Linked DNA regions of Homo sapiens. The protein of the gene in region 2 purifies or fractionates together with the protein of the main gene of each other region. This does not show direct contact. Each region holds a gene or a part of one and is shown on either strand. Other genes may lie near its edges.

Region 1 (3,500 bases), on a different chromosome or scaffold from region 2:
AGCCTTTACTGACTCAGGAGATACAGGGGCAGGTTTCTGTGGTTCTGGAGAAGGAACAGGGGCAAGTTTCTGAGACTCACAAACAGGGACTGATTTTGGAGGTTCAGGAGAAGAAACAGAGGCAGGTTTTGAAGGCTCAGGAGAAGGAAGAGGTGTCTGTAGCTCAGGAGAAACAACAGAGCCAGGTTTCTGAGGCTCCAGGGGAGTAAGAGGAGTAGGTTTTGGCGATTCTGGAGACAAAACTGAACCAAGTTTCTGTGTTTCCATTGAAAGGGCAGGTATGGATTTTGGTTCTGCTGAATTGCAGGGTATTTTCTGGTGTTCAGGAAGAGGAGGGCTTTTCACAGGATCTGTTTCTTTGTTCAACTGATTTTTTGGTTTATCATTCCATTTGTCTGGGGATGCATGTTTGGATGTGATGTGATAGTATACATTAGAGTACATCTTGCTGGTGAAGAAGCATTTATGGCAGTGAAATAACTTTGCACTTTTCTGGTAAAATATCATTTTGCCTAGCCCACCAGCATCCATTTCATCACAAAATTCTGGATGGATGGTACCCATATGGATTTGTACATTTTCATAGTCTGTGCCTCTGAAACTGCAATGGTCACACTCCAAACGTGCTGATGGTTTACGAAGTTCCTGGAATGCTTCCATTCTTCTGTCTGTTACCAACACACACGGTTATATTCTTTAAAAACTTTCAATACTGCTGCAATAAAGTAGGAATAAATTATTTTCATGAACTGTAATTCTGAATAAAATGCTGTCAGTCCATTCTATAACTGCATAATTTTAAGTCTAGAACAGTGCGTGCTTTATTTGATAGTATCTCTAGGGAGAATTTGAAGAAAAAGGAGATATAGAACAGTCCCAGGCACTCTGCTAGGAGTTTCACATACATCATCTCATTTAATCCTAATGATATGACTCAACTATTATTTTCACTTACAGATGAAGAAACAGGTTCAGAGAAGTTACCTGACTTTCTCTGGTCCAGGCTATAGGACTATCAGTGATGTGAGCCTGACTCTAGAATTAGCTATTGCATGTGCTTTATACTTTGACTCTCAAACTCCGAGTACAAAAGTCCTCAGCACACAAAGATGAGTGAATATCAAAATTAAATCTTGGCTATTTAAGGATGAACAAGAGACTAAAACTTTTGCAGAAAGCACTTAATAAATTAAATCTAGCTATAAAAAGATGACTTTAAAACATGATGCTGGCTTGATTTCATGTCAACATATTTTGTAATGTTTAATCTATCCCAATATAGTATTCTATTAATTCATTTAATAAATAAATAACTTTGTGTCCTACAATGTTCTAGGCACTTAGGCTTAAAGCAGTGCTTTGCAATATGGCGTTCATGAGTTGGAAAGATAAGGTGGAGAGTGATGTAGAGGCCGTTGGAAAAGACCTCTATGCATGGGACATTCCAGCAGAGATCCTGAATGATGTGAAGGCGCATACCAACCAAAGGGCAAATCAGAGGACACCCCAGCAGCTGGAACACAGTTGCCGGAAAACATGAATTTAAAAAAATTGTAAACCAGTCTTCTTAAGTAGTAAAGGGAATAGAAGCTCACAGTTAAAAACACATTCACACAGTACGAGATACAGAGTGTCAGTCCCTAGGGGTAGCCAGTGTACTCATGTGTCCTGGAAGAAATGTCCTAAGCATATATTGATCAACACACATGCTTTACACAAATGGGATATTAAACATATTATCTGGCAACTTACTCTCATTTAGAATTTATCTCTAAGACATTTTTACATATGGAATAAGCACTGACTTTCCCTGTACTTATCTGTGCATGTGAGGGTATTTCTGCAGGGAAAATTCCTAGCAATGGATTACTTGGCCATTTGTGTGTAAAATTGATACATTTTACCAAACTCTCAAAAACTTCTATTACTGCATAACAACGTGTATATATGAGAGACAATTTCCTATAAATTCCTAATCCTTGCTACAACCTAGGTGAAAGCTAGTATTTCACTATTGTGTTAATGTGCTTCTCTTTAATGAGAAAGACTGAACACCTTCCCTTATTGACGGTAATGATATTTACTCCTCCTCAAAGAACAGTACAGATTAGAAATGCAGGCTCTCCCTTTATTAATTACAAAACCATTATTTTAAAAAAATGTATAGGCTGGGCGCAGTGGCTCATGCCTGTAATCTCAGCACTTTGGGAGGCCGGGCAGGCAGATCACGAGGTCGGGAGATCAAGACCATCATGGCCAACATGGTGAAACCCCATCTCTACTAAAAATACAAAAATTAGCCAGGCGTGGTGGCGTGTGCCTGTAGTCCCAGCTACTTGGGAGGCTGAGGCAGGCCAATCGCTTGGACCAGAAGTCGGAGGTTGCAGAGAGCTGAGATCATGCCGCTGCATTCCAGCCTGGTGACAGAGCAAGACTCCATCTCAAAAAAAAAAAAAAAAAAAAAAATTAACATTTCTAACTTTGATAATTTGTTTTTAAAGATGTTCTCACTGGCAATACTGCTTCCTAACACTTTTATCCAAGGTATATCATTTGCCTTTTTTATTTTTTGATCTAAAGCTAAAAAGGTGACAGATACTTGAGGAAACAAATACTTTTCTTCGGAAACTATTTACTCTTTCTGAGTTGCCCAGCAGTTATCCTGTATTTTAGAAAACTGTTTTGGGGCCAGGACTGTAACAAAAGAAAAATAAATAATTCCGTACTGATGAAAAATCTCTGAAAATGATCTTTAACTTACAAACGTAATTGAATGCATGGAAAAATAATGGGTTAACCATCCGTCTCAGAGCCCATTGTTAAATAAAACTAGAAGACTTTAGGGGAAAACGTAGGATATGTCTCAATAATCCCATGAGGCAATAATGAACAGCCCAACTGGCAATAATGAACAGCCAAGCTAATATTAAAGAGCACTATATTACATATTGTAATTACAACAGAGACTAAGAGCTCAGGTGTGCTGGGTTTGAGTCTGACTCACCTACCATTCCCCATTCCTCCCAGCCATCCCTCCTCTTCCCGCTGCCTACCACCAGCTCTTCAGGCCAATCTCATACTTAAATCTACAAAGAATGCTACAGAATTCACTTCTCATATCCCAAATTATGTATATCTAGCACACAACACACATTATATCCATAAGGGCGTGTACACTTTTAGAGATTTTCCTCAAGAACTCCAGGTATTTTTTTTTAATTTTCTCCTCATAAAATATTCTCCTAAGCATGCTTTCCCTACTAGACTTACCTGCTGTCTTACTAGACACCTTAAAAGTGGTCTTCAAAAGGCAGGCATTCTACATGGCTTTTTGACTAAACCACAGCAAACAGCCTATAGTATATGAAGAAGAACAAAGATGAGAAGTTGAACCTGGAAAAAAAAAAAAAAAAAAAGAAAAGTAATCAAAACTATATCTGTGATCGTGTGTGCCCCCTGTAATGGAATTCTGTGTATTTCTCTCACCATCCTGCCCTAAC
Region 2 (2,703 bases):
AGCAGTGACTAAAGGGGACAAGGAACCTGCCTTCACGAAGCTAGCGGTATAGAGGGGAGAGACAGGACTCACTCACACACTCACAGGCGCTGGGAAGGAAAGGATGGATAGAGTGCCCAGGGGAGCAGGCCCAGGAACCAAATTTAGATGAGGAGGTCAGCAAAGGCCTGGTGGAGGAGTCCATGTAAGTCGAGGCCCCAAGGATGAGTCGTCAGCCGCTCGAAGCGTGGGCGGGAGAACATTCCAGGCAGGGGGAACAGTGTGAGGTGGGAAAGATCTCGGCCAGCTGCAGAGTAGGCTGCCTCTGGGCCAGAGGCCAGAGGCCAGAGGGAGGAGGTAGAGGAAGAAGCATCTAGGAGCAGGCAGGGGCCACGCCTAGCAGCTTGACAGAGGCACCCAACAAGGAGTACTGGGAACAGGAACAGACCAGGGGCTCAGGATCAGAGAACAGTGGCGGCCAGGACAGCAGCAGGGAGGATGGGGGATGAGAGCCTTAGATGAGGGCGCTGGCAATGGAGGGGCAAGAAGCAGAGACTCCAGACACAGGTGGAATCCACATGGCTGCCACTGGAATCGCCAGAGCCCCACTGGCCCCAAGCCCCTCACCTTCTTGCTCACAAGGAAGCTGGCAGCCACAGCCAGCCCGTGGGTGAAGTTATCGATGGTGTTGGCCAGCAGGTTGAGGTAGCCGCTGACCTGGGAAGGAGGGAAGGCAGGAGGCAGGGCTGAGTGGGGCTGGCCACTCAGGGCAGTACGGCTGCAGGGGCCCTGAGCAGGCCACTCACTTTGATGCTCCGGACCACGGCACCGAGGCCGGGCTCTGCAGCCGGCTGGGCCAGACAGTGGCCTCCATTGAGCGCGGCGGCAGCAGCAGTGGGGTCTTTGTTGGGGGCCTAGGGCCAGGAGAAGGAGGGAGAGGTGACATTAGATGCCCCCCACTCAGCCAGGGCAGACAGAAGGGGAGAGAGATGGAGAAAGAGAGACGGGGGCTGGGTGCAGTGGCTCATGCCTGTAATCCCAGCACTTTGGGAGCCCAAGGCAGATGGATCACCTGAGGTCAGGAGTTCGAGACCAGCCTGGCCAACATGGTGAAACCCCACCTCTACTAAAAATACAAAAATTAGCTGGGCGTGGTCCCAGCTACTTGGGAGGCTGAGGCAGAAGAATTGCTTGAACCTGGGAGGTGAAAGCTGTAGTGAGCCGAGATCGCGCCACTGCACTCCAGCCTGGGTGACAGAGCGAGACTCTTCTCAAAAAAATAATAATAATAATTGGGAGGCTGAGGTGGGTGGATCAAGAAGTCAAGAGATCGAGACCATCCTGGACAACATGGTGAAACCCCGTCTCCACTAAAAATACAAAAGTTAGCTGGGCATGGTGGCGCGCACCTGTGGTCCCAGCTACTCGGGAGGCTGAGGCAGGAGAATCGCTTGAACCCGGGAGGCAGAGGTTGCCGTGAGCCACGATCGTGCCACTGCACTTCAGCCTGGGTGACAGAGCGAGACTCCGTCTCAAAAAAAAAAAAAAAAAAAAAGATAGGAACCCCTGTTTTTTCTAGCTAGAATCCTCTGCTGCTATATCAGTTGGGTGCCCCCAAACTCAACAAACCCTCCCCAACTGCTGTCACCATCAGGCTACCAGAACAAGCTACATCAGGGGCTAATGGTGTCAGTCCCAAAGAAGGTGGCCCAACCTCCCGCAGCTCCCAGGAGAGGGCCAGGAGACCCCTCTTTTCAGGGCTCAACTCAGACCCTGGGCCTCCAGGCCCCGGGCACTACCACAGAACAGAGGCTGATATATCCAGGCCCTTGAGTGTGGGGCCCACCTGGCTGGTCCCCTCCTCCTTGCTGTCCAGGAACATCTTCTCCAACGCCAGGAAGGTCAGGATGCCAGCAATGACCCACAGCCCCAGCTGTTGCTGCTGCTGCAGGCTCTGCCCCTCACCACCTGCAGGGGGCGGCAATGCCAGGCCAGGCCAGGCCAAGCCAAGCCAGGGCCATAGGAGGGGGCCATTTGGAATGGGATCTCATCCAGGGCACCAGGGCAGTGACAAGGGTGGGTTGGGCAGCTGGGGCCCAGAACTCCCACTGGGACCAGGGCCCAGAGACCAGGACAATGACCCTCCCTCCCTCCCAGGCAAGCTCCTGCCAGAAACCCAGAATCCCTCTCCTGGTCATCCTGGCCATCCCTGGGCGTGGGCACCAGGCCCCCACTCCTGGCACTGTCTTGCCCCTGGCGTGTGGCCTCACTTACCAGGGCTGGCGCTGCACGTGTAGGCCCAGGCTTCGGGCAGCAGATGCAGAAACACATTGCCCAAGAGTCCCCCCAGGGCGAAGCTGAGCAGCTGCTTCAGGCGCCAGGCCCCAGCTACAAGGGAGAGATGCGGGGTCTGGGGGCTGACTGGCTGGAGCTCCTGGCCTGACCTTCATCCCACCCCACTCACTGGGCTCTTTCTGGGCCTGCAAGGCTGGATATGGGTGGCTGCTCTTCCTGGGTCCCCCACCTCACAGCAGAAACACCACACCCTGCCAAATGCCCACAGGGCCACCACCATGTCATGGTGAAGAGCTGACAGGTCCCAGCTCCCAACCCACTAGCTGGTGACCTTGGCAGATGACTTTGGAGACTCGGTTTCTCCATCTGTAAATTGGGTCTTATGGGAATTATTATTTTATCTTGTTTTGTTTTGAGATGGAGTCTCGC
Region 3 (3,500 bases), on a different chromosome or scaffold from region 2:
TTGTAAAGTTCTGATACCAAGGGTTTTCCTCTTTATTTTACCCTGGAGAGTCACCATAACTGCCAGCTTGTAGAACTTAAAAGTTGTCCCAGGAAAACATAGACCTGGATAAACTTTTACAGCACCGTTAAGACCAGCAAACCTTTTAACGGTTTTTACTATTTTAGGTAAATGAAACCGATTCCAGCCCTTCTGTTGTGGGCATAATGCATTTCCTTTCTCTGTTTTTCACCATATCAAATGACAGCAGATATTAATTTCACCTGTCATATTTAAGAAAAGCCCCAAAATTGTAAAATTGGGGACACAGATTCACACTTCCCTGTACTGAATAAGGCACTGACTTCCACAGTTTTCTCCTCTCTCCTCCCATCTTAGTGTTTCCAAAGTAATTTTTTTTTTTTTAAGACAAGGTCTTGCTCTGTTGCACACATTGGAGTGCAGTGGCGTGATTATGGTTCACTCCAATCTCTGCCTCCCAGGCTCAAGTGATCCTCTCACCTCAGCCTCCCGAACAGCTGGTACTACAGGCATGTGTCACCAAGCCTGGCTAATTTTTGCTTTTTTTTTTTTTTTTAATTGATGGGGTTTCAACCATGTTGCCTATGTTGAGTTTTCTCAAACTTCTGGGCTCAAGTGATCCACTTGCCTCAGCCTCCCAGTGTTGTGATTACAGGCATGAGCCACTATGCCTGGCCCCAAAGCAATATTAATGGAAATAAAAATAACAGTTTATTTTCATAAATTAAAACACCCTCCTTAAATCTTGCCTTCCCCTCCCCCCAAATTACTAAATCACTATTTATATGTAGAAAAAGGTAGACTTATACGCCTTTAGGTCACAGTATATGGGCCAAACTTAAGGCCAGTTTTTTATTATGAATCTGGAGTGAAGGTTTGATTTCACCAGAGTTACTCTGCCATCTTCACGGCTATTCTTTGCTTTGCATTCCAGACTATAACCCAGATGTGGATACAATCATATGAACATCTATTCTATCATCTTTCCTTCCCACATCCTTCATAATCACTCTTTTTCTGGGGAAATTGGAATTGTTCAGTGGGCTCTATAGAGATGAAGTGGGCAGAACGAATGATTCCATTGAATTTCAATCAAAAGTTACATGAGAAGAAATACGATTTGATATTCTGACTTCACATGTACCTTCTTTACGTCTAACACTTAGAATGGGGTCAATAACTCCTCTACATATGAAGACTAAGACACAAGGAAAGATGTGGGGTGGGAAATATGAAAATAAAAATAAAAAGAAGCTGGACATGGTGATACATGCCTTTAGACCCAGCTATTATACTTGGGAGGCTGAGGTAGGAGGATCACTTGAGCCCAGGGTGGTTGAGGCTGCAGTGAGCCACTACACTTCAGCCTGGGTGACAGAGTGAGACCCTATCTCAAAAATAACAACAACAAAAGCCAAAAGAGAGCTGTGATAAGAGGAGAAAGAAGCAAAGGAAGAGGAGAACTGGAGACAGTAATAGAGCACTACTAAGCAACTTTCTTAGCTGTTCTAAGTAAACAAACAAAAAAAAATAGTCTCCATGTGACCTTAGGATAGCTCTAGAACCTCTGTCCTTTGGTGGGACTATAAAAATTGAACTACATATTGTAAAATTCACAATATATTGTAAAGATACATAACCCTAACTACTACATATCACAGTTTGAGGGAAAAAATCAGATTCTTACCCAATAACTGGATGTTTGAAGCCAAGCTTCTTGGTGGCTTCTTCTATTTCTTTTTCTAGCCAAGGCTGTGGGCGGATCAAGTATTTGACAAACTGAGACACCCACCACACTGCAGGGTCACCATGCACTCGTACAAGTCGATCTGCGAGGTCTTCTGGTACAGCCAAGGGTAAATATGGAGGACGGGGATGAAGACTGTCTACAATGGGAAGCTCGACCACTTGAACATTTTTGTCCTTCACTTCACCTGACAATATTGAAACATATAATCATTACCACATGGTATTCCTTATACATCCACCATTCAACAAGAACTTATTCTGAGTGCTTTCATCCTCACAGCAACTCTAAAGAAGTATAATCTTCACTTTACAAAGGAAGTTAAATAACTTGCTCGAAATACCAGAGCAAAAGTGACGGAGGTGAATTTCACATGCAGGTTAGTCTATCTCTCAAGTCTCTGGTCTTTTCTAAAAGTTTCTATCATAACATGCTATCATACCAACACCTCATGGTATGCAGAACTCAAAGTATCTAATCAAAGAATGACAGTAGACACAGCCAGCTAGCAAAGTTCTATTTTTTGTTGTTGTTTTGGAATTAGAAAATAAAGTGTTCTCGAAACTTCTAGCTTTTCATTACAGCAAAATTGCTCTTGCATTACTTTCATGACAGAACACAATGACTCTGGAAACACCTGAAGATTATAATTATAAGCCAATCATCTACATCTTTTAAAGAAAAAAATTAGATAATTCTAAAATCTTTTTTTTTTTTAATCTATTGGAGGGAGATGAAGCAAGATGGCTGAATAGAAGCCTCAACCAATCGCTGCCCCCACCACAGGAACACCAAATTTAACAACTATCTACACAAAAAAGCACCTTCACAAGAACCAAAAATCAGGTAAGTGATCACAGTACCTGATTTTAACTTCATATTGCTGAAAGAGACACTGAAGAGAGTAGGAAAGACAGTTTTCGATTGTCTACTACCCCTTCCACCCCCATGCAGTGGCCGTGTGGTGCAAAGAATCTGTGTGCTTGGGGGAGGGGGAGCACAGTGATTGTGGGACTTTGCACTGGAACTCAGTGTTACCATGTCACAGCAGAAAGCAACACCAGGCCAACTGGCAAGCAACACCCGGGCCATTAGCAAAGAACTCAGCCAATGCCCATGGAGGGAGAACTTAGATGTGCCCTAGCCAGAGGGGAAATGTCCATCCCAGCGGTTGGAGCCTGAGTTTCAACAAGCCGCACCACTATAGGCTGAAGTGTCCTGGGGCCCTAAATGAACTTGAAAGGCAGTCTAGGCCACAAGAACTGTAATTTCTAGGCAAGTTTTAGTGCTGTGCTGGGTTCGAGAGTCATTGGACCTAGGGGGCACGTAACCTAGTGAGCCACCAGCTGAGGTGGCTAAGGCAGTGCTTATGCCACCCTTTCCCTAATCTAAGGCAGTGCAGTTCACAGCTCCAAAAGAGACTCCTTCCTTCCACTTGAGCAGTAGAGAGGGAAGAGTAAAGAGGACTTTATCTTGCAACTTGGATAACAGCTCAGCCACAGTGGAACAGAGCACCAAGTGGGCTCTTGGGGTTCCTGATTCCAGACCTTGGCTCTTGTATGGCACTCCTGGACCTGCCTGGGCCAGAAGGGAGCCCAGTGCCCTGAAGGGCAAGTCCCAGGCCTGGCAACATTCACCACAAGCTGACTGAAGAGCCCTTGGGCCTTAAGTGAACATGAACCGTAGCCTGGCAATAATCCCTGTGGGCTTGTAGTGGTGGTGGCCATAGGGA
Region 4 (3,500 bases), on a different chromosome or scaffold from region 2:
AAGAATGTCTCCCCCTATTGGATGATTTAGCAAATGTACAGCATGAATTCCTCATCGAATCTCATCAAAAGTCAAATTCTTATGGCAGTAGGCCAGTATTTCTCAAAATGGGGCCAAAGATACATTCTACAAGGTCCAAGAAGTTTCCATAAGACTTACATATTTTTGTTTTCATTTGTAATTAAAAACATTAATATCCATATTCTGGATTATCTGTGTTGTGAGTATAAATTTCAGTGCCCAGGCTTGTGTTTGCTCCATGATCTCACTGGCACCTAGCTGCCCACTGCTGTTACAGGCAGACATGAATATGATACATTCTTGCCAAATCAACACTAACCAGGCAAGGCAGGCTACACGATTAAAGGTTTCAAAGTATTTTAAATAGAAAATGCAGAGGGGCAGTTGAGTAGAGTTGGGTATGTGATAGCAGTCTGACCAAAACCCCCTCCCTTCTTGCCCTGAGCAGCACTTTGGTTTCAGCAAAATCTCTTGTCAATGTAACTGAATGTTTTCAATTTAAGTTTTGCAGGCTGTTTGGGTTTATTTGTACAACTGCTTTCTGATTTGACTTTCTGACTCTGAGTTATGAGTTCTAAGCATCAAGACTATGGAGTGTTACCTAGTTTAGGACTGTATACATTTAAACAATTTAATATAACTCATTTAATGCTGGAAATCAGACTGATGAGCTCATCTATTCCTGCTGTCATCATCGGATAAACTCAAAACCAGTTAATACAACTCTCTATAAAGACAGAAGTCCGGAAAGTCCTTTTCCTATGGTTTCCTCTTTTGGCCACTGTGGCTCTCTGCTCTTCTCTCATTCTGCTAGAGAAGCAGCAAGAGGAAAACAGAGGAGGGTCCCTCTACTTTCCTTACAATTAAGGCTTAAAGAAAAGTGCTCATTTTTCTCATCTTTTACTCCAAGGAATCCAAGTTTCCCTAATTCTACGAGGCACCACATCTGGAAGACAGGATTACTGTGTAGGCTTAATTAAGGCAAACAGGCCAGAACCTTGCTTTTAATTCAGGCTGTAGGCTCCAGGGGCACACACGTTCCAGGTTCAAAGGGACAAAGAAATCATAGTTGGCTGTTGAGACAAAGCACTGCAGTGAGACATCCCATCCCCTCTGCATCTCAACTCTTGGGATGGGCCATGGGGAGCTGCTGGATCAGTGACTCAGGGTCTTGGCCATCTTTCTTTCTACAAAGACAGCTTCACAGCTAGAAAGGCTCTTAGGATTACTCTGCCCAAACAATATTATAGAAAAAACAGAGTATGACAACTAAGAAAAATACTGAAATAATGCTAAAATACAACGCCGACTCTTCATATGATAGGAGAAAAATGTCCAAATTGAGAGGAAAATTGGTGGATAGTGGTGGTGCTAATGCCTTTTGGTGCTTCACTGTGAAACCACTGACAAGAAAAGAAACACAGTAACTTGGGCATGACCTTAAGGCTTCTGGGGCAGTGCTGATGAATATGAAGATAGTTAATTTAAGAGCTACACAAGTACAACAGAATTTCTGTTCCTTATCATTAAAAAGCACATATTTAACGCCTAACTGTCCAAGGCATATAGTCAATGGGCAAATAAACCTTTCATCTTTTGCTTTTCAGAATTCTCATTCAACCTAAAAATGCAGTTCTCCATGGCCTAAAACTGGTTCTCCAGAAGAGCAATTTCTGATACCTCTACTGGGGACACAGTGAGAACCAACACAATCTTTTTAAAATAAGTGTTGTTCCAAATGATGGCTTCTCTTTATTTCCAACATGGCACCCAAGTATCTGGTTTTAAACTGCCCTAAAATCCTATATGCCACTATAAGAGAAAAACAGGCAATTGAATTATGAGAACAGTGAATATAAATCAAACAATCATCTTTTAAAAAACTGCTTCTGGCTGGGCGCAGTGGCTCAGGCCTGTAATCCCAGCACTTTGGGAGGCTGAGGTGGGCAGGGCAGACCACCTGAGGTCAGGAATTCGAGACCCCCTGGCCTCGCCTGGCCAACATGGCAAAACTCCTTCTCTACTAAAAATACAAAAACTAGCCAGGCGTGGGAGCACATGCCTGTAATCCCAGCTACGCGAGAGGCTGAGGGAGGAGAATTGCTTGAATCCGGGAGGCGGAGGTCGAAGTGAGCCAAGATCGCACCACTGCACTCCAGCCTGGCTGACGGAGTGAGACTCCGTCTCGAAAATAAATAAAAAGTAAAAAACATGCTTCTATTATCCTTTCAAATATTCAAAATTCCTAAGGAGGCTGGATGCGGTGGCTCACGTCTGTAATCCCAGTACTTTGGGAGGCTGAGGCGGGTAAGGTCAGGAGTTCGAGACCAGCCTGGCCAACGTGGTGAAACCCCGTCTCTACCAAAAAATATAAAAAAGTAGCCAGGTGTGGTGGCGCGCACCTGTAATCCCAGCTACTCGGGAGGCTGACATAGGAGAATTGCTTGAATCTGGGAGGCGGAGGTTGCAGTGAGCGAAGATTGTGCCACTGCACTCCAGCCTGGATGACAGAATGAGACTCCATCTCAAAAAAAAAAAAAAAAAAATTCCTAAGGACTTTGCAATAATCTTAGGTATTCTCTCTTCTCAGAAGCTAGTCAGTCATTGAAAGCCTTATGACTATTTGGGATCTGGGAGCTGGTCCATGGGTTAAAACTGGAACATTTACTCACTATGTAGTCTTCATCTTCGTCCTTGGGGCCAGGGCTGTAATACACTCTGTATGCTCTGGCCACTTGATCGACCTCTTCTCTCGTGCCAGTCAAGCCAACCAGTTTGGGAGAAAATTCTAAATAAAAAATGAGAGAGACAGTGAAAAATGAGAAGCCAGTAAAACAACCATCTCTACTTCAAAAAATGTATCAGTTGTAAAGCAGCTCTACTGCCACTTTCTTCCTGTGAGTCTCCAAACATTTCTTCACGATTCAAAGGAAAAGGAGAAGAAATTCACAAAGAACAAATGAAAATTCTCCTTTGTAATATATAAGTCAAATCTTTTTATGACTATCTAGTAAAGACCTGGAGGGAATATTTTCTAATCACTTGTATCACATTTTAAATTGATTTTTAAGGAGTAGTCACATGTAGTTCTCAGATATACTAAAGCTTAAAATTATTATCATAAATTAAATACTATAACTTTTCATGGCATCATATGGGGAAAAAAATTTGCTTCATAACTAAGTTCATATCAGGTCAAAATACCTGTGTCTTATTTTCCTGCAAATAATTTCAACACTGGTATCAAGTTCTACTCTTTACTTCTGATTTAAAAAAACTGGTTAATTAATACTAGTCATCCCCAAAACGCAATCTTAACAAAGTTCTGAAATAAGGGCAAATCATTCACAGCGTGTATCTGCTATTAAGTTTTTGGAATTCATGTAAGTGAACCGGTAGAGGTCACTTAAAACAACTGGATTCATCAAACTACTGAAATGACAGCCCAACATTTAACAGCAGTTCCTTTTTCTAAAGGT
Region 5 (3,500 bases), on a different chromosome or scaffold from region 2:
TCCTTTCCTTCCATATAAAAATCCCACAGCGTATCTGTTCACAGAAATCTTCCCTTCTCCAGGCTAAAAATCTCCATGTTTTGCAAATGCTCAAACCAGTCCTGCTCCAAAAGCTACACTGATGCTCTATCTCTAGGATTAATCTGTAAAAGTAGAAACATGTGGATAGGAAAGTGAGTGATTACATAATTTCTTCTCCTTTCTTTCTAAGGCTAACCAGACTTCCAAAAATATCACAGAGAAAGGCTGACTCCAGCTCTACCTCCCTGATTCTGCACTGAGCCAATATATAGAAATCTCCCAATCAATAAATCATACTGAAATAAGAATACCCTTCTTCCAGCCGGGTGCAGTGGCTCACGCCTGTAATCCCAACACTTTGGGAGGCCAAGGCAGGCAGATCACGAGGTCAGCAGTTTGAGACCAGCCTGGCCAACATAGTGAAACCCTGTCTCTACTAAAAATACAAAAAAAAAAAAAAAAAAAAAATTAGCCGGGCATAGTGGCATGTGCCTGTAGTCCCAGCTACTCAGGAGGCTGAGGCAGTAGAATTGCCTGAATCCAGGAGGTGGAGGTTTCAGTGAGCTGAGATCACGCCACCGCACTCCAGCTTGGGCAAGTGAAACTTCATCTCCAGAAAAAAAAAAAAGGCCCTTCTTCCTAGTCTTTCAAACTCCAGATGACCTTAAAACCAAGATTAACACTGATGACTATAAACTAAAAGCAAAACAAAACAGAAAATAGCAAGTATTGTCAAGGAGTGGAGAAACTGAAACCCTTGTACTACATTGCTGGTGGGAATGTAAAATGGTGCAGCAGCAATGGAAAAGTATTGCAATTCCTCAAAAAATTAAACCCAGACTTAGCCATGTGATCCAGCAACTCCACTTCTGGGTCTATACCCAAAAGAAGTAAAAGTAGGGGCTCAAGTCGGTATCTGTACACCCATGTTCATAGCAGCATTATTCACAACAGCCAAATGGTAGAAACAACCCAAATATCTACTGACAGATAAATGGGTAAACAAAATGTGGTACATGCATACAGCGAATTATCATTCATCCTTAAAGAAAATTTTGGGCCAGGCGCAGTGGCTCACACCTGTAATCCCAGCACTTTGGATTACTTGAGGTCAGGAGTTCGAGACCAGCCTGGCCAAATAGTGAAACCCTATCCCTACTAAAACTACAAAAAAATTAGCCAGGCATGGTGGCATATGCCTGTAATCCCAGCTACTTGGGAGGCTGAGGCAGGAGAATTGCTTGAACCTGAGAGGTAGAGGTTGTAGTGAGCCGAGATCGTGCCACTGCACTCCAGCCTGGGTGACAGAGCAAGACTCCATCTCAAAAAAAAAAAGAAAAGAAAAGAAAAGAAAATTTTGGCCCATGGTACAACATGAGTAAACCTTGAAGACATTATGCTACATGCGATAAGCCAGTCACAAGGAGCTAATGTATATAATTCCTCTTATACGAAATACCCAGAATAGTCAAATTCATAGACAAAGTAGAATGGTGGTTGTCAGGGGTTACGAGGAGGGAAAAATGGGGAGTTATTGTTTATTGGGTACAGAGTTTCCGTTTCGGAAGACAAAAATTTCTGGAGATGAATAGTGGTGATGATTATGCAACAATGTAAATGTACTTAATACCACTGAACTGTACACTTAAAAATAGTTACAACAGTAAATTCTATGCTATGTGTATTTTACCACTACTTAAAAAAATTTTTTTTGAGAATGCCACATTCTGATTAGGGAAGAAGTCCCTTCTTCTGATCTGCCTTTTCCAAGTTGTCTCTCGCTAGTGCTTTTCTTACCTATAGTGCCAACCCCTCCGCTCCAGAAAAATACTGCTACCAGAAGATTATTTCTCTACATTTCCAGTTAATTATGTATGAGATGATTTTTTAAATTTCTAATCATGGAAGATCATTTTTTATTCATATCCTTTAAATAATATACTTTCAAGAAGAAATGCATCTAAAACCAAGAAAATTATACCTGTATTTCTTTTTCTGAAGCTGCCATATCATAGTTTCAGAAAGCTCAGTGGCATAGATTTCTTCAAAATGAGGGCTCATGATTTTTGTGACTTCTCCATCTCCAGCACCTAAATCAAGAAGTCTGTGGGTTTTCCAGTCTGGATTAATTTTAAGCAGTCTCTGAAACTGATCTGGTGAAAACACAAACATTGAGCCTCTTCCTAGCAACCTGAAAGAAAAAAAGGACAAAAATGGAAGTGTCTATGCAAATTAAGCACCCCTCACATACACACACAAAGTGAATATAGTGACTCAGCACCAACAACCATAATCACTTATTACATGGTTAAGATTTTTTTTTTTTTTAGACAAGGTCTCACTCTGTCACTCAGGCTGGAGTGCAGTGGCATGATCTCGGCTCACTGCAACCTTCGCCTCCTGGGTTCAAGCGATTCTCCTGTCCCAGCCTCCTGAGTAGCTGGGATTACAGGCATGCACCACCACACCCGGCTTATTTTTTGTATTTTTAGTGGAGACAGGGTTTCACCATGTCGGCCAGGTTGGTCTCGAACTCCTGACCTCAGGTGATCTACCCGCCTCGGCCTCCCAAAGTGCTGGGATTACAGGCATGGGCCACTGCGCCTGGCCTAATTTTTTTTTTCTTTTTTTTTTTGAGACAGAGTCTCGCTCTGCCGTCGCCCAGACTGGAGTGCAGTGGCACGATCTCTGCTCACTGCAAGCTCCGCCTCCCAGGTTCATGCCATTCTCCTGCCTCAGCCTCCTGAGTAGCTGGGACTACAGGCGCCCGCCACCACACCTGACTAATTTTTTGGATTTTTAGTAGAGAAGGGGTTTCACCATGTTAGCCAGGATGGTCTCGATCTCCTGCCCTCGTGATCCACCCGCCTCTGCCTCCAAAGTGCTGGGATTACAGGCATGAGCCACCGTGCCCAGCAAAGATATTATCTTTTATGTCATTTCTATGATTAGAAGACAAAGTTAATAAAATAAGAAAATGCCTCCAGATACCATTTGTCTTTGGAGTTGCAAATAATGCCCCAAAAAAGCATGGGAGGAGGGAAATAAAAGGTGGAAAGTGGAAAGGATGACAGGGGAAGGAAGAAGAAATAAGTAAGAGATGAATGTGAAGAACTTAAGTCAAAATAGGAAGGAAAAGTGGAAGGAGTAACAGAAAACATGTTTATCAGTTGAAAAAGATGACAAGCTAACACAGCCAGACCACAGTAGCAGAGAAACCAAATAGGAAAAAAAAGTGATTTCAAATATGGAACTAAACCATGGATCAGGAAAAAAGAGCTTTAGTATAACAGATTTTTAAGAGACACTAGAGAAAAGAGGGAAAAGAGTGGTCCTTGTGATGTCGGTTAATATGCATTAAAGTAGATTCGTACTTATGTCAGTTTATATGGTTACAACTGTCTGGGTCCTATTATTTCTAAAGGTCCTAGAAAACACTCAAAACCATAGTGATGCCTTTGAAAAAAGAGACTGAGGGG
Region 6 (3,500 bases), on a different chromosome or scaffold from region 2:
CTGGTCTCGAACTCCTGACTGCATGTGATCTGCCTGCCTCAGCCTCCCAAAGTGCTGGGATTACAGGTATGAGCCACTGCACCCAGCCAAGGGCCCACATGTAAAGGCTGGGCCTCACCCCAAGGCGTGGGGAAATACCTCATGAATTCATGAATACACTAAATTAACTTGTCAACTGGGATTTTTTTTTTTTTTTTTTTTTTTGAGATGGAGTCTCACTGTGTCGCCCAGGCTGGAATACAGTGATGCCATCTCAGCTCACTGCAACCTCTGCCCCCTGGGTTCAAGTGATTCTCCTGCCTCAGCCTCCAGAGTAGCTGGGATTACAGGCATGTGCCACCATGCCCAGCTAATTTTTGTGTTTTTAGTAGAGATGGGGTTTCACCATCTTGGCCAGGCTGGTCTTGAACTCCTGACCTCGTGATCCACCCGCCTCGGCCTCCCAAAGTGCTGGGATTATAGGTGTGAGCCATTGCGCCTGGCTGGGCTTTTTTATTGTTATTTTTTGATTTGGGGTTTCACTATGTTGCCCAGGCTGGACTCCCAACTCCTGGGCTCAAGCGATCCTCCCACCTTGGCCTCCTGAGTAGCTAGGACTACAGGCATGTGCCACCATGCCTGGTGTGAATTGGGTTTGAAATAGGGTCTTTCAGAGCCTGACAGGCTCCATAGCACCCCAAGGGCCAGCAAGGGGTGAGGCAATAGTCACCGTGGGCTGGGACTCAGTGTCTTCTCCCCAGAGGCACCGGGCCTCCCTGCCTCTCATCTCGCCCCTCCCCTCTGCCCTCCATGGTTGCAGCTTACAGCCATTCCACAGCTCCCTGCGGCTCTGAGGATAAGGCCTTGGGTACCACTCTGGGCATTCAAGGCCCTCACCACCCTCTGGGACTTCCCCTCTCTACCCTGCTCACTGGATCCAGCCCCATGAGATACGCCAGGCTGAGCTCGTGGGCTCTTTCTCCACCAGGCTCAATTCCTGTCTTCCAGAGCTTTCCTCAGATCCTACCTGAGCCCTGGTCCCAAGCAGAAATTGCTCCCTCCCCAGCCCCTCTGTTGGCCCAAGTATGCCAGCACCCTCTCAGGCGGCACAGCCTGGCTATTATCTGCGGGATTTATTACCAGCCTTCCTAAGAGCCTGTCAGCATGGCTGAAAACAGCTTGAAAACCAATGAGCCAGCAGGTGAATGATCGCGTACGACAGATGCTTCACACCAGTCTACACTCCTGGGGCCGGTGCCAACCCTGGGAAGAATCAGTAAAAGGCAGCTCCCCTCTGGGCTGACTCAGCCTCGAGACAGGACACGCATTTTGGCAAGCGGAGCACAAGTTGGGTGTCAGCCTCCACCTGGCCCCTGGGCCACGAATCCTTGGATGGTGAACAACCTGTGCAACTGTTCAAGGCAGCCCGGCACTCACATGTAGCAGAATCAAAAGGGAGCTTGTTAAAAATATAGTTCCCTGGGCCCCAGTCCCAGAGTTTCCAATTCAGTCCACTAGGACTGGAGCCCAGGAGGCTGCATTTGTCAGCCAGCTCCCCCAGTGATAATGATACCCAGTCAGGATGGGGACTTGGAACAAACAGCCCAATTAGTAATGATAATAATCATCATCCTGGTAATAGCTAACTCTCACATAGCACCTCCTGTGCCATGTGGGAGGCTCTATTCTCAGCACTGTGCATGTTAATTCATTTAATCCCCACAACACCTCTATGAGTTAGGTCCCACCATCATCCCTACTTTGCAGATTTTGAAGCTGAGACACAGAGAGGTTAAGCAACTTGTTCAAGATCACACAGCGAGAAGAGAGTAGAGTCAGATTCAAATCCAGGAAGTCTGCTTCCAGAACACACCCCCTTCACCGCATCACTAAAGCGCCCCTAAAGCCGGCACTCAGTGAGCGGCTGTCAACCCTTATGTAGCCCCTACCACGAGCCGAGCACTGCCCAGTGCTTCTCACAGACTCACTCATTTCATGCTCACAACCCTACAAGGCAGATCTCGCTATCATCCCCATTTTCCAGATGAGAAAACTGAGGCTCAGAGAGATTAAGAAACCCCCCTAAGGGGTGTTGAGTAAATGAAGTAGGGAAGGGAAGGGGAAGGGAGGGGAGCGGAGGAGAGGGCAAGAAGGGAGGGAAGGGAGAAAGGGAAGGGGGGAGGAAGGAGGTGGGGAGAGGGAGGGAAGGGAAGGAAAAGAGGAACAGGAAGGAAGGGAGGGAGGGAGGGGAAGGGGAGGGGAGGGGAGAGGAGGGGAGGCGGAAGGAAGGGGAAGAAGGAAGGGAAGGGAAAGGGGAAAAGGAAGGGGAGGAGAGAGAGGGAGAAAGGAAAGAAGGGAGGAAGGGAGGGAGGAAGGAAGGAAGGACAGGGAGGGAAGGGAAGGGAAAGAAAAGAGGAAGAATGGGAAGGAAGGAAGGACAGGGAGGGAAGGGAAGGGAAAGAAAAGAGGAAGAATGGGAAGGAAGGAAGGGAGGGAGGGAGGGAGGAGAGCATGACGCAGGAACAATGCATGAAACAGAGACAACTACAGGGGGCCTGACCTGGTCCCCACAGCGCAGGGCCGCAGGAGGCGTGGCAGGCGCATGCTCACCTTGGAGGCCCGCAGGCCCATGAAGATGGCGAAGAGCAGCAGCAGCAGGGAGGTGGCCACCTTGAGGTCGGTTAGCACCACCATGCCCACGTTGACGAAGATCGCCACGCCGGAGACTACCAGCATGAGGTTGAGCAGGGCGCGCTGCAGGGTGGGCGTGCGCACCTTCAGCTCCGGCAGCAGCTGCTCCAGGCCTTCCAGCGGCGTGTCCTTGAAACTCTTCAGTACCAGGTGTCCCCGTTTGGTCCGGGCTGCCAGGACCACCCGCTTAAAGTATCTCCTGAGGGACAGAGACAGAGGCAGGAGCAGGATCGGGACTGCACTGCCCGGGGAGCCCCCTCCAATCCTAGGACGCTCACTCTGGCTCTACAGTCGCACAACCATCTTAAAAGCGACTCAGTAATCATGGGGAAGAAACCAGGGATCAGCTGTGTCCAACCACAGGGGATCGGTTCAATCGCGCCATCGATCCCTGGTATTGGACGTGCAGATTGTTTGTTGGAATCCTGGCCGTGCCGCATCTTCAGAATGTGGACCTCCCTCTCCGAGCCTCAGTTTTCCTTATTGGAAAATGGGGAGAACTGTCCCCATCCTTTCTCTTCCCCTGGGAATCAAGTGTAGTACTCACTTTCCCTTGAGAAGAAAAGACAGCATTTGGATGAGTCACGCCTCCCATTTCTCAACTTCCCGCCTGGGGCCCAGACACCCAAACCAGACACTGACCTGTCAGTCCCCTCTTGACTCTAACCTTGCTCCCTCTTGCTGCAGCTGGGGAACAAGGGCCGCCTCACCTCTCCGCAGGGGGCAGCTTGGTGAAGAAGCCACGCCTGGAGCCCACGCTGGACTTCAGGGGCATCTGCCCGACTCGCTGGCCCAGGGCCCAGAAGTGAATGTAGACATACTGATCCAAA
Region 7 (4,202 bases), on a different chromosome or scaffold from region 2:
GCCACCACTCCATGAATGACCACAGCTGGACCTGTGGTATCTTTTCTGAGATCCCTCTTGGTTCCCAGAGCTGGATAAATTACCTTGTCTTCCTAGCCTCCTGGAGTTGGACCCATGTCTACATTTCACAGTTCCCCTTGAGTGCCCAGAACTATATCCATGCTCCTCTCCCTCACTCCAACTTGAATGTCTGTAACCTGATTTATGTCCTGGTGTATCCTCTTCATCCTCTTCTGTTTCACTTTCTTCTTCTTGGTGTCGGTGACCACGCCTATGCTTCTTTGACCCTGAAGCTTTGCAGTATTCTTTGCTGAGGACCTTGTTGCAGGCCATAGTCAGCTTGAATATCATCAAAAGAAACTCAGTAAAGTCCAATCTTCTGTCATGATCTCGATCCAGCATATGCATGATGACATCCACTGTGTCTGGATCATCTGGGTTCTGTATATGAGTGACACACCAAGGGAGACCTGGTCAGCCTAACCTGCATACTCAACTAACACATTTAAATAGCGCTGTGAAATTATGGATGTTTGACATGATGTAGTTTTAGTCCAATAAAGGATTACTTTAGGTTAATAGAACCCAGTAAATGTTAAGGGTTAATAGAAAATAAAGACTACTGGGATCCTCAGAAGAAGACATTTCAAGGATTTAGGCTAAAGGATTAAGTGCTTAGGTAAGGCCTACAGGAAGGAGTGGAATAAACTAAGTTCAGTAACTGGTATTTCTAAGTTTTACATAAATTGTAACTATTACATGTTAATATCTTCCATGTTGGAATTTATCATCTATTATTTTGAAGTTAATAACTGAGTCTTTTTTTTTTTTTTGAGATGGAGTCTTGCTCTGTAGCCCAGGCTGGAGTGCAGTGGTGCGATCTCTGCTCACTGCAAGCTCTGCCTCCCAGGTTCACGCCATTCTCCTGCCTCAGCCTCCCGAGTAGCTGGGACTACAGGGGCATGCAACCACGCCCGGCTAATTTTTTGTATTTTTAGTAGAGATGGGGTTTCACCGTATTAGCCAGGATGGTCTTGATCTCCTTACCTTGTGATTCACCCACTTCGGCCTCCCAAAGTGCTGGGATTACAGGCATGAGCCACCGCGCCTAGCTGAGTCCTTTTTAAGTAGATGGAATAAAATGCTGGCATTTTATTTTTGATTCTTAATCATGGCTATTTTGTCAACTCCCTATGTAGATGATTTCCCTTTCTATACTTTTTTTTCCATTTGATAGGATAATTTATTAATTCGTGTCCTAGTATAATTTTATTTTCTGCTTTTTCTAAGGAAAAGCCTGGGTGTATGAGAAAGTCTGAGAGTCTATGAGGTAGGAGTGCATAGGTGGAAAAGTGAGGACGAAACATTCACTTTCTTTAAAATATCTGCTGCTTTAACAGACTTTCTGGCATCCCCAAAATACCACTCATAGAGTTTGCTTAGAGTTCACTGGGGCTGTGCACTTTTTAGCTGATCTGGGTCATACAACAGAGCTTGTACAGGACTCCAGCAGCCTTCAGTTCTGGCACATGGCTCTCACCTTCAGAACTGGATGAAGCTCTTTCTCCAGAAGTTCCTTTAGTTCACCCTTGCTCAGTGTGCCACACTCCCCATCTTGCTTGGTGTATTTGTAGAAAACATCAATTACGGTGACAACACTTCTCAAGAGGTCGGTCATCTTTTTGCAAGTTTAAGTGAACCTGGACACAGAAAAACAAAGAACCCTATTATTCATATTCTCTCCTTTTATCAGCAATTTTCATTTTAATAATAACCAGCATGATTTTTTTAACCTCTTGTTTTTTAAATCTCAAAACGTAAGAATGGGCCAGGGATGATACAACCCCGTTTAACACAATGAAAATTAACTTTGTTAACTTTGAGTTACTTTTCTGTGATCAAGTCTTGGCATGTTACTGGTTCAACTGAGAATAGACCTCAAGTCTCTATATTTCCTGTCATGGGTAAGTATAGTCTCTACATAGTATCTCTACACTTTGAGTGTGTTGGCATTCTGGGTGTTGTTCTAAGGCTTCCAAAATTTCCAGAACCAGCCAGACACCATTGCCTCAATCTCTCTTTCTAGTTTCACTGCTTTTCTTGAGTCAAAAGTGACAGACCTTCCACCATGCACATCTGTTTATCCTCTGGGCACCAGAAGCTAAACTGGACCCTTAAGGCCTTCAGCAAATTAAAAATGGGCAAAGGGGCTCAAAATAGCTTGGTGTTTCATAGGCATGAGACAGTAGAACTCAGTAGAGCTTAGGAACTCTCTTAATGTCAAGCACTTGACCAAACACTGTTTTCTTTAATTAATCAAGAAGAAGAGCTCAGCAATGCAGGCAGCAGTTTAACTAGTGGATAATTAGATCTTGGAGCTCTGGGAACCAACACTGAATAAGGAAGGGACTCTGCAACAGACCCAGCTGCCTCCCAGTTTGAGCTGGACAGCCCAGAAAAGAGGGCATGGAAAAAGACTCGGAACAGACTGTGGAATGGCCTAGAGGAAGGTGAACTTTTACTTGCATTATTCTTCTCCATAAAAATGAACTTAACTACAAAAAGGCCCCAGAATAAACTAAACTAACCAAACAAATAAGCAAACAAAAAGAAAAGAAAATGAAAGAAAGAAACAAAAAAGAAAAGAAAGGCAAAATATACATGAACTCTGCCTTAGCTTATATCCCTAGACTTCTACTATGGACAACACCAAATATTCATAAATGTAGCTGGATGAATTTTCTCTCACCTGGTTCACCAAAGGAACAAGTAGGATAAAGCCTGATGCAGCTTGCAGGGTGACGATGGATTGGGATAATGACCCTTATATAGCTTATAGTGATTATAGTGAATGAGGTGATTCATTTTCCATCAAACCTAACTCCACCTCTACATATTTACCTTCCTCCTTCACATTGTTATCTACAGATGATTGCAGAAAGGCTAGTACCAGCCCCACCTTCCAGTACGAGGACATGGTTGCAAGATACCTTTTTTTTCAGGGTCATATACATGTGAAAAGCACAGACTTTGTTTTAGAGGACTCATGTTATACATTTCTTTTAACTAGTACCCACAGAAAGTAGCAGAGTGTAAGATACTTGGAAGGTGCACAATAAATGCTTATTTAATTGAAAATGAACCTGAGCCACTAGGTTCATCTAATTCATGTCTTTTTTGTAATAATAAAAAGTGACATTTATTGAGAATTTACTATGTGCTAAATACTTTAAACAAACCATCTCAATCTTTAAAAAATCTGCACTTTTAGTTATGGGTACATAGTTGTATATAATTGTTGGGTACATGTGATGTTTTGATATGGGCATACCATGTGTAATGATCAAATTACAGTAATTGGGGTATCCAGCACCTCAAGCATTTCTTTGTAGTAGGAACATTCTAATTCTACTATTTTAGTTATTTAAAAATATACAATAAATAGTTAACTATAGTTACCATATTATGTTACCAAATACTAGATCTTATCACCTCATTTAATCTTCACAACCTTCATACGAGATATGTATTTATTATCCCATTTTATAGAGACAGGTTCTGGAAGCATAAGGATCTTCTCCAAGGTCATAGCTAGTAGGCAGAGAAACCAGAAGTTGAACCTGTATCTACCTTATTGCAATTGCTGTTTACCATTATACTAACTTACCTCTGTGTATTTATCATATATAACTATCATGCAAAAATTATGCACCATTTTAGGAGTGTAAGGCCCACTCAAACGCAAATAATATAAAAAAGTAACATACAGAGTGCTGTTAGGAAGAGAGGAAACATTCTCTGACCTTGTGAAGGCTCATTTCTAGGCTAGAAAAGTGTAATTGGCTATATATAAAAATAATGTTTTCAGATATGTTCAGGGTGAATTTAGAGTGAGCTTTCTTCCAGCACTCTGCGATCCACTGGTAGTCTGGCATGTTTAGGGCCTGGACCCTTGGGAAAATGTTCACTTATGTACAGAAAGTATATCAAATACACTTGAGGGTAACAAAAATAATCAGAGAGCTGTAAGTCTTAAGCATGGAGAGCCAATTCTGCTGTACTTTGCTACCAGGTGATAATGATGATGATGAGGAGGATAGCAGCTACCATTAAGTGCTAAGTGCTTACTATCTTCTATACATGGTAGGTTTACATGCTTATCTATTTATTCCTCAAAATAACCCCATTTTATAGATAAGGTA

What was found.
Region 1: the proteins of SLC39A13 (region 2) and CHAMP1 purify together in Homo sapiens (affinity purification with mass spectrometry; one large-scale study listed by BioGRID and IntAct). This does not show direct contact.
Region 3: the proteins of SLC39A13 (region 2) and FUT8 purify together in Homo sapiens (affinity purification with mass spectrometry; one large-scale study listed by BioGRID and IntAct). This does not show direct contact.
Region 4: the proteins of SLC39A13 (region 2) and SCO1 purify together in Homo sapiens (affinity purification with mass spectrometry; one large-scale study listed by BioGRID and IntAct). This does not show direct contact.
Region 5: the proteins of SLC39A13 (region 2) and METTL9 purify together in Homo sapiens (affinity purification with mass spectrometry; one large-scale study listed by BioGRID and IntAct). This does not show direct contact.
Region 6: the proteins of SLC39A13 (region 2) and TMEM143 purify together in Homo sapiens (affinity purification with mass spectrometry; one large-scale study listed by BioGRID and IntAct). This does not show direct contact.
Region 7: the proteins of SLC39A13 (region 2) and FLG2 purify together in Homo sapiens (affinity purification with mass spectrometry; one large-scale study listed by BioGRID and IntAct). This does not show direct contact.

The regions. Positions count from the first base shown.
Region 1 is NC_000013.11:114,321,003-114,324,502, reverse strand, and holds part of CHAMP1 (chromosome alignment-maintaining phosphoprotein 1), read right to left. Parts: intron 3,394-3,500; 5' UTR 3,271-3,393; intron 2,441-3,270; exon of another isoform or gene 716-2,440; 5' UTR 661-715; coding exon 1-660. UniProt on the Homo sapiens protein: Required for proper alignment of chromosomes at metaphase and their accurate segregation during mitosis. Involved in the maintenance of spindle microtubules attachment to the kinetochore during sister chromatid biorientation.
Region 2 is NC_000011.10:47,411,590-47,414,292, reverse strand, and holds part of SLC39A13 (zinc transporter ZIP13 isoform a precursor), read right to left. Parts: intron 2,368-2,703; coding exon 2,254-2,367; intron 1,948-2,253; coding exon 1,826-1,947; intron 894-1,825; coding exon 786-893; intron 697-785; coding exon 607-696; intron 9-606; coding exon of another isoform or gene 1-8. UniProt on the Homo sapiens protein: Functions as a zinc transporter transporting Zn(2+) from the Golgi apparatus to the cytosol and thus influences the zinc level at least in areas of the cytosol. May regulate beige adipocyte differentiation.
Region 3 is NC_000014.9:65,720,230-65,723,729, reverse strand, and holds part of FUT8 (alpha-(1,6)-fucosyltransferase), read right to left. Parts: intron 1,956-3,500; coding exon 1,709-1,955; intron 1-1,708. UniProt on the Homo sapiens protein: Catalyzes the addition of fucose in alpha 1-6 linkage to the first GlcNAc residue, next to the peptide chains in N-glycans.
Region 4 is NC_000017.11:10,684,034-10,687,533, forward strand, and holds part of SCO1 (protein SCO1 homolog, mitochondrial), read right to left. Parts: intron 2,810-3,500; coding exon 2,694-2,809; intron 1-2,693. UniProt on the Homo sapiens protein: Copper metallochaperone essential for the maturation of cytochrome c oxidase subunit II (MT-CO2/COX2). Not required for the synthesis of MT-CO2/COX2 but plays a crucial role in stabilizing MT-CO2/COX2 during its subsequent maturation.
Region 5 is NC_000016.10:21,616,577-21,620,076, reverse strand, and holds part of METTL9 (protein-L-histidine N-pros-methyltransferase isoform 1 precursor), read right to left. Parts: intron 2,213-3,500; coding exon 2,003-2,212; intron 1-2,002. UniProt on the Homo sapiens protein: Protein-histidine N-methyltransferase that specifically catalyzes 1-methylhistidine (pros-methylhistidine) methylation of target proteins.
Region 6 is NC_000019.10:48,339,941-48,343,440, forward strand, and holds part of TMEM143 (transmembrane protein 143), read right to left. Parts: coding exon 3,381-3,500; intron 2,870-3,380; coding exon 2,590-2,869; intron 1-2,589.
Region 7 is NC_000001.11:152,357,207-152,361,408, forward strand, and holds the start of FLG2 (filaggrin-2), read right to left. Parts: upstream 2,801-4,202; 5' UTR 2,750-2,800; intron 1,701-2,749; 5' UTR 1,679-1,700; coding exon 1,541-1,678; intron 442-1,540; coding exon 1-441. UniProt on the Homo sapiens protein: Essential for normal cell-cell adhesion in the cornified cell layers. Important for proper integrity and mechanical strength of the stratum corneum of the epidermis.